Homo sapiens: one gene and its partners. The gene in region 1 interacts genetically with each later gene. Each region holds a gene or a part of one and is shown on either strand. Other genes may lie near its edges.

The links.
Region 2: changes in NDUFA9 (region 1) and DDX18 together harm fitness more than expected from each alone (negative genetic interaction), as found in Homo sapiens cells (one large-scale study listed by BioGRID).
Region 3: changes in NDUFA9 (region 1) and FH together harm fitness less than expected from each alone (positive genetic interaction), as found in Homo sapiens cells (one large-scale study listed by BioGRID).

The regions. Positions count from the first base shown.
Region 1 is NC_000012.12:4,659,114-4,662,613, reverse strand, and holds part of NDUFA9 (NADH dehydrogenase [ubiquinone] 1 alpha subcomplex subunit 9, mitochondrial precursor), read right to left. Parts: coding exon 3,437-3,500; intron 82-3,436; coding exon 1-81. UniProt on the Homo sapiens protein: Accessory subunit of the mitochondrial membrane respiratory chain NADH dehydrogenase (Complex I), that is believed not to be involved in catalysis. Required for proper complex I assembly.
Region 2 is NC_000002.12:117,821,191-117,824,690, forward strand, and holds part of DDX18 (ATP-dependent RNA helicase DDX18), read left to right. Parts: coding exon 1-106; intron 107-459; coding exon 460-560; intron 561-671; coding exon 672-871; intron 872-956; coding exon 957-1,071; intron 1,072-3,378; coding exon 3,379-3,500. UniProt on the Homo sapiens protein: ATP-dependent RNA helicase that plays a role in the regulation of R-loop homeostasis in both endogenous R-loop-prone regions and at sites of DNA damage.
Region 3 is NC_000001.11:241,506,256-241,509,755, forward strand, and holds part of FH (fumarate hydratase, mitochondrial), read right to left. Parts: intron 2,531-3,500; coding exon 2,348-2,530; intron 1-2,347. UniProt on the Homo sapiens protein: Catalyzes the reversible stereospecific interconversion of fumarate to L-malate. Experiments in other species have demonstrated that specific isoforms of this protein act in defined pathways and favor one direction over the other.

The sequences.
Region 1 (3,500 bases):
ATCCTCTCTTCCAAAGATGTCCGACGGCTTTACGATAATGGCTTCCGGAAATGCATCTCTCACTACTTTCTCTCCAACAGCCTAAACAATAACCAAACAAACCTGTTTTGAGTTTAGAGACAAGTGAATAAAGCATCCATTCTTTCCACTATTAAGACATGACTTGTATTTCAAAGGCGATATTTTCCTCCAGATAAAGGTAATCATGTAATTCATAAAACTCAGTTACACAGAACTTTTAAAAAATATAATCCACAAAAATGTCCTGCACCTTACAGATTGGGTTGGGTCTCTTCCAATTTTTTTATTTTAAGGGAAGCTTACATTGAAGAAGGAGAAAAATCAAAGTAGAATTTCTTCAGCCTCCATTTTTCCTTCTATTTACAGATTCTCTGGTTTGTGTCAACCATCTAGCAGCCTGTTAGAAAAAGGACAGTATGGTGGCAGCAGGCTGCAATAATGGAAGTGTCACCAGTACCTACATATCCAAAGGAGGTTGGGGATAGAGTCACTAATCCTCCTAATCTCAATTGCTGTACCATCCTTACTTGTTATCATCTACTAGCCTCCTAGGCAAGTCTTCTTGTTCGATGAAGATATCAGCACCTAATTCAGTCTTCCTTTCTACTTCCACCACCACTGGAGGTGACATGATGTCCAAGTGGGCTTGGACTTCTCAGGTTCTTGAGCTGCTCAACTCCAACGACCTCCTCTTCCTTCCACCTCTACCACTCTTAACTTGGTTACACCACCTACTGTATCAACATCTGGAATTGCTCTTCTTCTGAGGTATTAAATGAAGACATCCTGCTCTTGGATGTCCATTTCCTACAATTTCCAGCCTGCTTGTTCTTTGTTCATCTGCTCCTGGGATACCTGTTTCTCAACCTTCTCAAGAACTCTAGTGCACTGATTCTGCTTCCCCTGTATCAACTCTTCCGACTGTTCCTGTCCTTCCCTCTGAATTCCAGATTAGGTTCCATAGACCATCTTCTCATCACTCTCTTGCCAATATTGTAAACTACCTTGTCCCTTTGTCCTTTACTCTAGCCACCAGGCAAAATTCTAATCCTAGAAGAACTCCATTGGCCTCCCTTGGGCCATGCACTCCCACTGTCTTGAGCAGCTGGCAGGAAAATAAATCAATAAAAACCATGAATTGGTACCACTATAAATTCATGCCTCCAATTTTAACCAGGCCCTCAACATTTCCCAAAAACCGTGTTTTCCTCTAATTAACTTACTTTCCCATGAGACAATTTGAAACATTTTCTACTGTATTCAAATTTCAGACATCCCTTTCTTTTCTCTTCCTTCCAGTAAATGACTCTGCCTTCTAATAAAAGAGAAAATGTAAGACAGTAGAGGAAAAACCACCTCAAGTTCTCACCACTAAATCTACAAACCCCGGTATATAAAGCACAATTTTCTCCTCCTCTCTTACCTGATGGGAGGAACAGTGCCACTTTCAATGCTTTAGAGCTCATGTCCTTTCACTTTTTCAGGAACCTGTCCAATTTACTCTCTCTTCCACATCCTCAGCCTCACTCTTTTTACCAGCATCTCCCTACCAGCATGTAAACAATGTAGATCCTCTACCTTAAAAAAAAACATACCAACTCCACATCCCCCTCCAGCTTCTATCCTCTCAGTCTTTCATCTTCCTCTTGCCAGTCAAGCTACCTGAAAATGTACCTACCCTTACCATTCCCACTTCCTCAGTTCCAACTCACTCTTCACGCACCCGCATTCTGGATTCTGCTCCAACCACTGCACTCAATCTATTCTTGATAAGATCACCAATGACCTCCATGTCAGTAGATCCAAGGAGACTTTACAGTTAACATTTGCTTGACTTCTCAATGGCATTCATAAGTATTCACTTCCTCCTGTGAGACTGTCTGGCCATGGCTTCCCTAGCACTGTACTCTCCTGGTTTCCCTTCCGCCTTATCATGTCCTGCTTAGTCTTTCTGTTTGATTGGTTTGGGTTTCTGCAGGTGCCTCCTTCTCTACCAGATTACTAACCATTGGTATGTTCTGGGCCCAATCTGAAACTACCTTCTCAATCTTCAGCCATCTTATCCTCTCTCATCACTTAAATTAACAACAAATGCTGGTAACTCCCACATTTCTGTCTCCAACCCAGACCTCTCTTCTGACCTCCAGGATCAGAAACCCTATATACCAGTTACTTGGAAGATTGACACACATCTGAAATGCACCTGAAACGTGAGTCCAAAACTCAATCATCTTCCATTCTCTCAAGTAAAATAGTGCTCCTCAATCTTTGCTGCACTCAGAATTACCTAGACAGAGTTAAAAAATACTGGTGCTGAAGTTGCAACCCCAGAAATTGTTTTAATTGGTCTGGAGCGCAGCCTAGGCATCAGAATTTTTAAAAGCTCCCTCAGTGGTTTTAATGTGCAACTAAGGCTAAGACTCACTGCCCTACAGCCTAGTCCCTCCCAAGCATTTCCCATCTTATTCAACAGTACTATCATCTACCCAGTGGCTTCAGCCAGAGGGCTGGACATCTTTGACTCTTCTCTCTTCCTCACCATTGACACCTCCCATTCCCTTCCAGTCATGAAATTCTGATGATTTTATGAATGTTTGGGCAGAGGCAGGCACAAGCATTCTCTCTCTTATTTTCTCTCTATTTACTACCGTAGCCACAGTGCTTAACACAATATGTGACACACAGTAGGTGCTTAATGAATAGTTTATCCAGTAAACTAATGTGGTGAGTCAAAAACTTGGAACCATTATCAAGGAACTCTCTTGTCCTTATCAGTATGACTCCAAACAGGCTTCCATATGGCAGAATCCAAATGTTAAGCGCACGGCCAGACACTGATATCCCTTCTGCGTCCCTGATAATGAACACGTTTCACTTAGGCTACAGACTGACTCCAAACTACAGTGGTCAGTCTCTAGGTATGGCATTTCTGGGAGTAAAAGGAGCATAAGCACTGTGTGAATAGGCATCTTCCCTGGCAAATATTAATCCCTGTCATTCTGAGCCTTCACATTGCCCCTTTAAGAGTGGCACAAAACCACTGCAGTGCAAGGGGTGAGAAAGAAAGATGGTCCTTTAACCATGGTAGATGACACAGGTATGATTCCTTTGGCAGAAATCTGTGATGGTTTCTGTATAATTCAATGATGCCCCAAAGAAACTTTAAGTATCTGAATGCCAACAGTAACATGGTCTAGCCAACTCCGAAGCCCCATAGCACAGTTCCCTGCAAACAGAAGGCAATCAATCAAAACGTCAAAACATCACACACACCCCTAGTTCTGGATGCAGGGAATCAGAAAACCTTTTAATTCTACATATGTCTGTGATAAACCCTTCTCACTGAAATCATGTTTCAAATGGCCCAAGAAACTCTGGCTCTGTGAACCACTTCCCAGATCAATTTGTTACTTACCTTATTTCTCAAATATCTAGAAGAGCTTTTAATATTCGCATTCAGATGTGAAACATGAATGAAT
Region 2 (3,500 bases), on another chromosome or scaffold:
TATGTAATCTTGTCAATGAAAACACTCTGAAGGCAATAAAAGAAATGGGTTTTACAAACATGACTGAAATTCAGCATAAAAGTATCAGACCACTTCTGGAAGGCAGGTATGATTAACATTGAAGCTTAGATATTGGCATCTATTTTTAGAACTAGTAGATGATAAAGAACATACCAGTATATTCTGTTGATTTTGTACTATATGTTGGGTCATGTATCCAGCATACATTAAAGGCTTTAAGTTAATTACTGATGTTTGAAGGAAAGTGTTCGAAAGGTGTTCTGCTTCTGTTGTAGCACAGTTCTGACTTATGATTTCAGTATATAACCCAGGTGATCAATTTCAGCACTGTAGACGTTTCTTGTTCATGTTCTAGCCGTAGTGCCTAAGGTGTGTGTATGTAGTACGTCGTAAATGAGTAGGCTAAATGTCTTTCTCCTTTCCCTTTTTAATATTTAGGGATCTTCTAGCAGCTGCAAAAACAGGCAGTGGTAAAACCCTGGCTTTTCTCATCCCTGCAGTTGAACTCATTGTTAAGTTAAGGTTCATGCCCAGGAATGGTAAGCGTTCATCTGCTTGTTTCTGCCATTATTTCACTAGAGGTTTATTGTAGCTGTTACGGACTCAGTGGTGACAGCCACATTTAGACTTCTACCATATATCATTTTTAGGAACAGGAGTCCTTATTCTCTCACCTACTAGAGAACTAGCCATGCAAACCTTTGGTGTTCTTAAGGAGCTGATGACTCACCACGTGCATACCTATGGCTTGATAATGGGTGGCAGTAACAGATCTGCTGAAGCACAGAAACTTGGTAATGGGATCAACATCATTGTGGCCACACCAGGCCGTCTGCTGGACCATATGCAGGTAAGAGATGTAGTGCTTGTCTCATTGTCTTGTATGAAACATAAACTGACAACTAATGGTTGTTCTTTGTCCTTTGTTTTGTTAGAATACCCCAGGATTTATGTATAAAAACCTGCAGTGTCTGGTTATTGATGAAGCTGATCGTATCTTGGATGTGGGGTTTGAAGAGGAATTAAAGCAAATTATTAAACTTTTGCCAAGTAAGTAGGTAGCATCTGCATTTGGTTTGCAAAGTATCTGTTGGAGGTAGATAAGAGTTGTTCCTATAGAAAAACTGTACTAATGCCAGAACTTTACCATAGCCAAGTGAGGTAGTTGTGCCAATTAACCCGAAAGGTAATTTGGAATACAAGCATCAAATGTATTATAACTTGATATAATAGTTTTGCTGTTTTAGAAGTTATAAGGCACGTTAAGCAGTCTTCACATAGGTCCTGTCCTCCACCTCTTGCCCATTCTTACCTCATCTAACATCCCCCAAGAAGCCGCAGATTTTTTGCCTTACTTGTACATACCTTGGTTATAGTACTTGCAACATTATGAACTGGTTATAACTAAGACCATGGTTTCCTTCATTATATAATTTATTTTTAAAAGCTTTGTCAAAGTATAATTATATCTACCCATTTATAATGTACAATTTGATGTTCTTTGATTTGTTTACCACTGTGACATCATCGCTGCAATCAAGAAAATGAACATGTCCATCACAGTCAAAGGTTTCCTCCTGCCCCTTTTCAATTTCTCCCTCCCACCCCTCCTTACACGTATACCTTGTCCCCAGGTGAGTATTGATCTGTTTTCTGCTGCTAGATTAGGTTGCATTTTCTGGAAATAAAGTTGCTGTGAACAGTCATCTACAACTCTTTGTAGAGGCATATATCTCCTTTTCTCTTAAGTAAACCTAGGAGTGTCCTAGTTGGTATATGTTTAGTGTATGTTTAACTTTTTAAAAAACTGCCAGATGTTTTCCAAAGCGGCTGTACCATTTAACATTCCTATGAGCAGTGTATGAAAGTTCCAGTTCCTCCTATTAAGTCTTGACCATCAGGTAATGTTAGCCCCAAGTTTGTTCTCTTTTAAAGTTGTGGTATTCTTGTCCTTTGCTTTTCTATATAAATTTTAGAATTGGTTTGTCAGTTTCTCCCCCTTCCCTCCAAAAAAGTCTCAGATCTTGACTGAGATTTTATTGAATAGAGATTATTGGAGGAAGACAGTATTGAGTCATGTAACCCATAATAAGGTATATCTCCATGTATTCGATATTTTCTCTATCATATTTAGGGGGGTTCGGGATACAGGTTTATTCACATCTTTTGTCAGATTTATCTCTGAGTGTTTCATTAAAATTTCAAGTTCCAATTGCTCGTTGCTTTAATATATACATATATACACACACACATATACACACATATATATGCACACACAGTTGAATTTTATATTGATCTTGTATCTAGCAAGACAGTTAATCCTGTACCGAATGATTATTCAGTATGACTTTCCAGATGACTGTAGCCTTTTGGATTTTCTATATAGGCAATCATGTGCAGATAAAGACAGTTTCACCTCTTTATTTAATTTTTTTTTCCTGCCTGATTGCCCTGGCCAGAACCTCCAGTATGGTGCTGAATAGAAGTGGTGAGAGCAGACATCCTTATCTTGGTTCTGATCTTAGGGGAAAGCATTCAGTCTTTTACCATTAACTACATATGAAGTTAGCTGCAGGTTTTATATAGATGCCTTTTATCAGATTGAGGAAGATCCCTTCTGTTCCTAGTTTGCTGAGGATTTTTAATCAGAAATAGATGGTCAAATGTTTTTTTTCTGTCTGCTGAAATAATCATGTTTTTTCTTTAGTTAACATAGTGAATTGTATTGGTTGATTTTTCAAATGTTGAACCAACCTGCATTTCTAGAATAAACCTGATCCATTTCTAGAATAAACATGAGCCATTATCCTTTTTATATATTGCTGAATTCACTTTACTAAAATTCTATTTCAAATTTTGTATATGTGCTCACGAATTGTATTGGTCCATAGTTTTCTTGTCATGTCATGTCAGGTTTTTGTATAGTGTAATGACTGACTTCGAAGAATGAGTTGACATGTAAGCCCTCTTTTTAATTTATTGGAGAGTTTGTGAATAATTGATGTTTTTTTCTTAAATGTTCAGTAGAATTCACCAATGGAATCCATTTGGGCCTGGAATTTTCTTTACATGAAGGTTATAACTAAAATTTCTTTAGTAGATATAAGGCTATTTAAAGTTTTCCTATTTTCTTCAGTTGTTTGTCTTCAAAGGAGTTTGTCCATTTCATCTAAGTCCTCAAATTTATAGACCTAGTGTTTCATGATATACCCTTTTTACCTTTTGTAATATTTGTAGATTCTGTAGAAACATCATATCTCCCATTTCTGATATCTCTACCTAGAATATTTGTAGTTGTGAGGCAATTGTAAAGATTCCCTAAAAGATTGGGGTTATTTTTATATGTATCTGTTTCAGCACGTAGACAGACTATGCTCTTTTCTGCCACCCAAACTCGAAAAGTTGAAGACCTGGCAAGGATTTCTCTGAAAAAGGAGCCATTGTATGTTGGCGTTGATGATGATAAAGCGAATGCAACA
Region 3 (3,500 bases), on another chromosome or scaffold:
AATACCTTTCAGAATACTAAATTACAAGCTAATCAAGTTTTATTTATACTACTTCAAATCTTATGATGAGCAAAGTATAGGGAAGGATGAGGGTTTATAGAACCATAAGGTACGACAATGCCACTGATAACATGCAGCCTATTTATTATAATCTAGTCTTTTAATAGGAAGCAAAGAAAAACAGCACAGGAAATACACTTTAAAAAGAACAACTTTACTACACTAAATTATTGGTTTACTTGCAGTCTACTAAAGAAACTGAAGTGATTTCTTATTTTTTGGGATGCCTCAGACAACTTTGGTGTAAGAAAAAATAGTAACTCATCTCCCCCAAAAAAATGCAAACATAGAAATATTCTCCATACAATTTCAGTGTATAAACCTACCAGGAAATATGAAGACATTCTACAGAGACTTGGGAAGCTAATGACTCACTGAATAGCACAGGAAGGTAACAGTTTGCATTGAAGGACCTTCCAAAAAGAATAGGAGGTAACGGTAGAGTCAGATCATAGCATCAATGTGCCAATGTCAACACTGGTTCCAAATTTTGACATGCCTTAATTAAAGCAACCACAGAATTTATGTTTTGAACACAGAAAGGGCTCTATTAATAGTCATGCAGAAACAAAAGGCATACACTGGGAGTTAACTGGACAAACCAAGATACATGGTTACACTAAATCTATCCTTTTTTCCTGCCTGAAAACACTAAAAAACCATAAGTGACAGGATGCCATACTGTTCTAAAGAAAACATTTCAAAAGATATAACTCATTATAGGTAGACCTGATGCATCTGATATAACATCACTCATATACAGTCACGCACCACATAATGATGTTTCAGCCAACGAAAGATCACATAAACAGTGGGACCCTAAGATTATAAAACCGTATTTTTACTGTACCTTTTCTACATTTAGATATGTTTAGATACACAAATACTTACCATTGTGTTACGATTGCCTATTGTATCCAATGCAGTAACATGCTGCACAGATTTGTAGCCTAGGAGGAAAAGGCTATGCCATATAGCCTAGGTGTATAGAAGGCTATACCATCTAGGTTTGTGTGAGTATACTCTGTGATGTTCACATAACTATGAAATTGCCTAAGGATGCATTTTTCAGAACATACCCCCATTGCTAAGCAACACATGACTGTATGTATACACACACACACAAACACACTAGATAGATTCACTTATAAAATACACTTTGACAGGGAACAATGCACGAACTCAAAAGACAATCCCAATAAAAGCAAGTATAAATGCTTCTGATAAAGTCAAACAGAAAAATGTAATTTTCTGTCTTAACAGGAAGAATGATGATTTTACACAGGAGGCTGAGTCATGGCCCAAATGGTATTTAGTATTGTAGTTTTCAACACCAAAAAAAGGTTAAAATTAGAAACTTGAGAAATATTCAAAAGTTTCAAAACATACATACTGTTCCTCCTTAGAAATTATGCATGGTCCTAAGTACTAATGATGCAAAGAGAAATGAGACACAGCCTTAAGAAGCAACTCAATCCAGTGAGTTCAATTTAGTCCCATCATTTGTTTTTCAATTACTCATTTCAAGTTTTCCTCATTCCTTCCATAAGGAAATTAAGCTACCCCAATTGGAGTGTGAGTTTACTAAGACAAAAGTCATTCCCTGTATTTCCTTACATTTCCTTCACAATGTATACTATTAGATATTCCTTAAGGCATTGAAAAAGAAACATGAAAATACTTTCTAATATCTTGGAGAAGAGAGTAGTATCTCCTTCACATGCGGCCAGATCCATCTTAAAAAGATCTACCTTATTTAATCACTTTGAGATTAAATTTTAAATAACCTACTAATTTAGGTAAGAAAGACAAAAGAAAAACCATGATGATACTGATGGAGATGACAGCGATGACGGTGGTGATGATGGTAGCTAACATGAATGGGTACTTACTGTGTGCCAGGCATGCTTCTAAGCACTCTACATAAATCAACTTACTAGAGCTTCACAACTATCCTATGAAAGGGAAATTATTTTCCTCATTTTGTAGCTCAGAAAACTGAGGCACAGAAAGGCTAAATGACTTTCCTATGGTCCCATAGCTTGTACACAGCAAAGCTAAGATTTGAACCCGAGCAGTCTGACTGAATCTGACTTATAGCCAGTATACTCTGCTTTTCTTCTAAGTGGATGTCAATGAAAATTACTGATTGGTTGAACAGAACAACCTCTGTCACTGAAGTTTCCGGTTACAAATTTGGCCTTTTAAGCTAGTCAGATTTCAAGGATGACACATTGGCCATTTGTACCAAGCTCTAAATTGAATCAAATTAGTCAAACTCCTATACCTGCCCAAGAGTAAGTGGAACAGCATCCTGAGTATGAGTACGTCCAATCTTGATGATCTGTGCAAACTCTTTGGATTTTGCATCAAGAGCATCATGTAACTTCTGTAGTCCTGGTAACAGTACTTCATGAACTTCTATTGCAGCAGCAATGTGCATTGCTGTGGGAAAAGTATCATTTGAGCTCTGTTGGAAATTTTTCAAAAGAAATATAAAATGTTAAATCAGAGGCAACAAAAACAAACTTCTGAATTAAACTTCTCAATTAAAAAACTCTCCAACTAACTACTCAAAACCCAGCTCAGTTACATGTATGTGTGGCATGTCATAGGTGAGTTATTATAGAATCAAATAAGCAGCATCCTGGTTTCTAACACATACTCAGAACTGTATTATACACATTAAGTATACTGAATGTATTATGTATTATATATGTATTACGTATTATATTATATTATGTATTATATAATATATTATGTATTATATTATGTATTACGTATTATATCTGCCTGCTAATAAATGACAGCAAAATACAGAGAAGTATAGTTAACAACTGCACTTGAAGACAGCAGTAGTATCTTCAATGTAGTTGAATATCTTATAATTATATCAAATTACATCAATTATTGAATTATATATTCTTATAAAATCTTATAATTGAATATCTTACAATTATACAGTGCATACAGTCTTTCATAAACAGCTCTTTATTAAGTTTAGAAAAATTCTGTGAGGTAGATTACCACTTTAAAAATAGGAAAGCCAAGCCCTCAAAGAGACTGTATAAATGCCAAAATATTTAGCAACTGGCAAACCTGAGACCTAGCCAGGTAGTATATACTCAGTGCTCTTTCCTCAACTGTTGACCCTGTACTTTTAAAACATAATATCAAGCTGGGTGCAGTGGCTCATGCCTATAACCTCAGCACTTTCAGAGGCTGAGGCAGGAGGATCAATTGAGGCCAGGAGTTTAAGACCAGCCTGGGCAACACAGAGCAATACCCTGTCTCTGAAAACATTTTTAAAGTTAGCCAGGCATGGCGGTGCATGCCTATGGTCCCACTTGCTCAGGAAGCTAAGGCATGAGGATCCCTGGAGCTCAGCATTTCCAGGCTGCAGTGAGCTATGCTCACTCTACTGCACTCCAGCCTGGGTG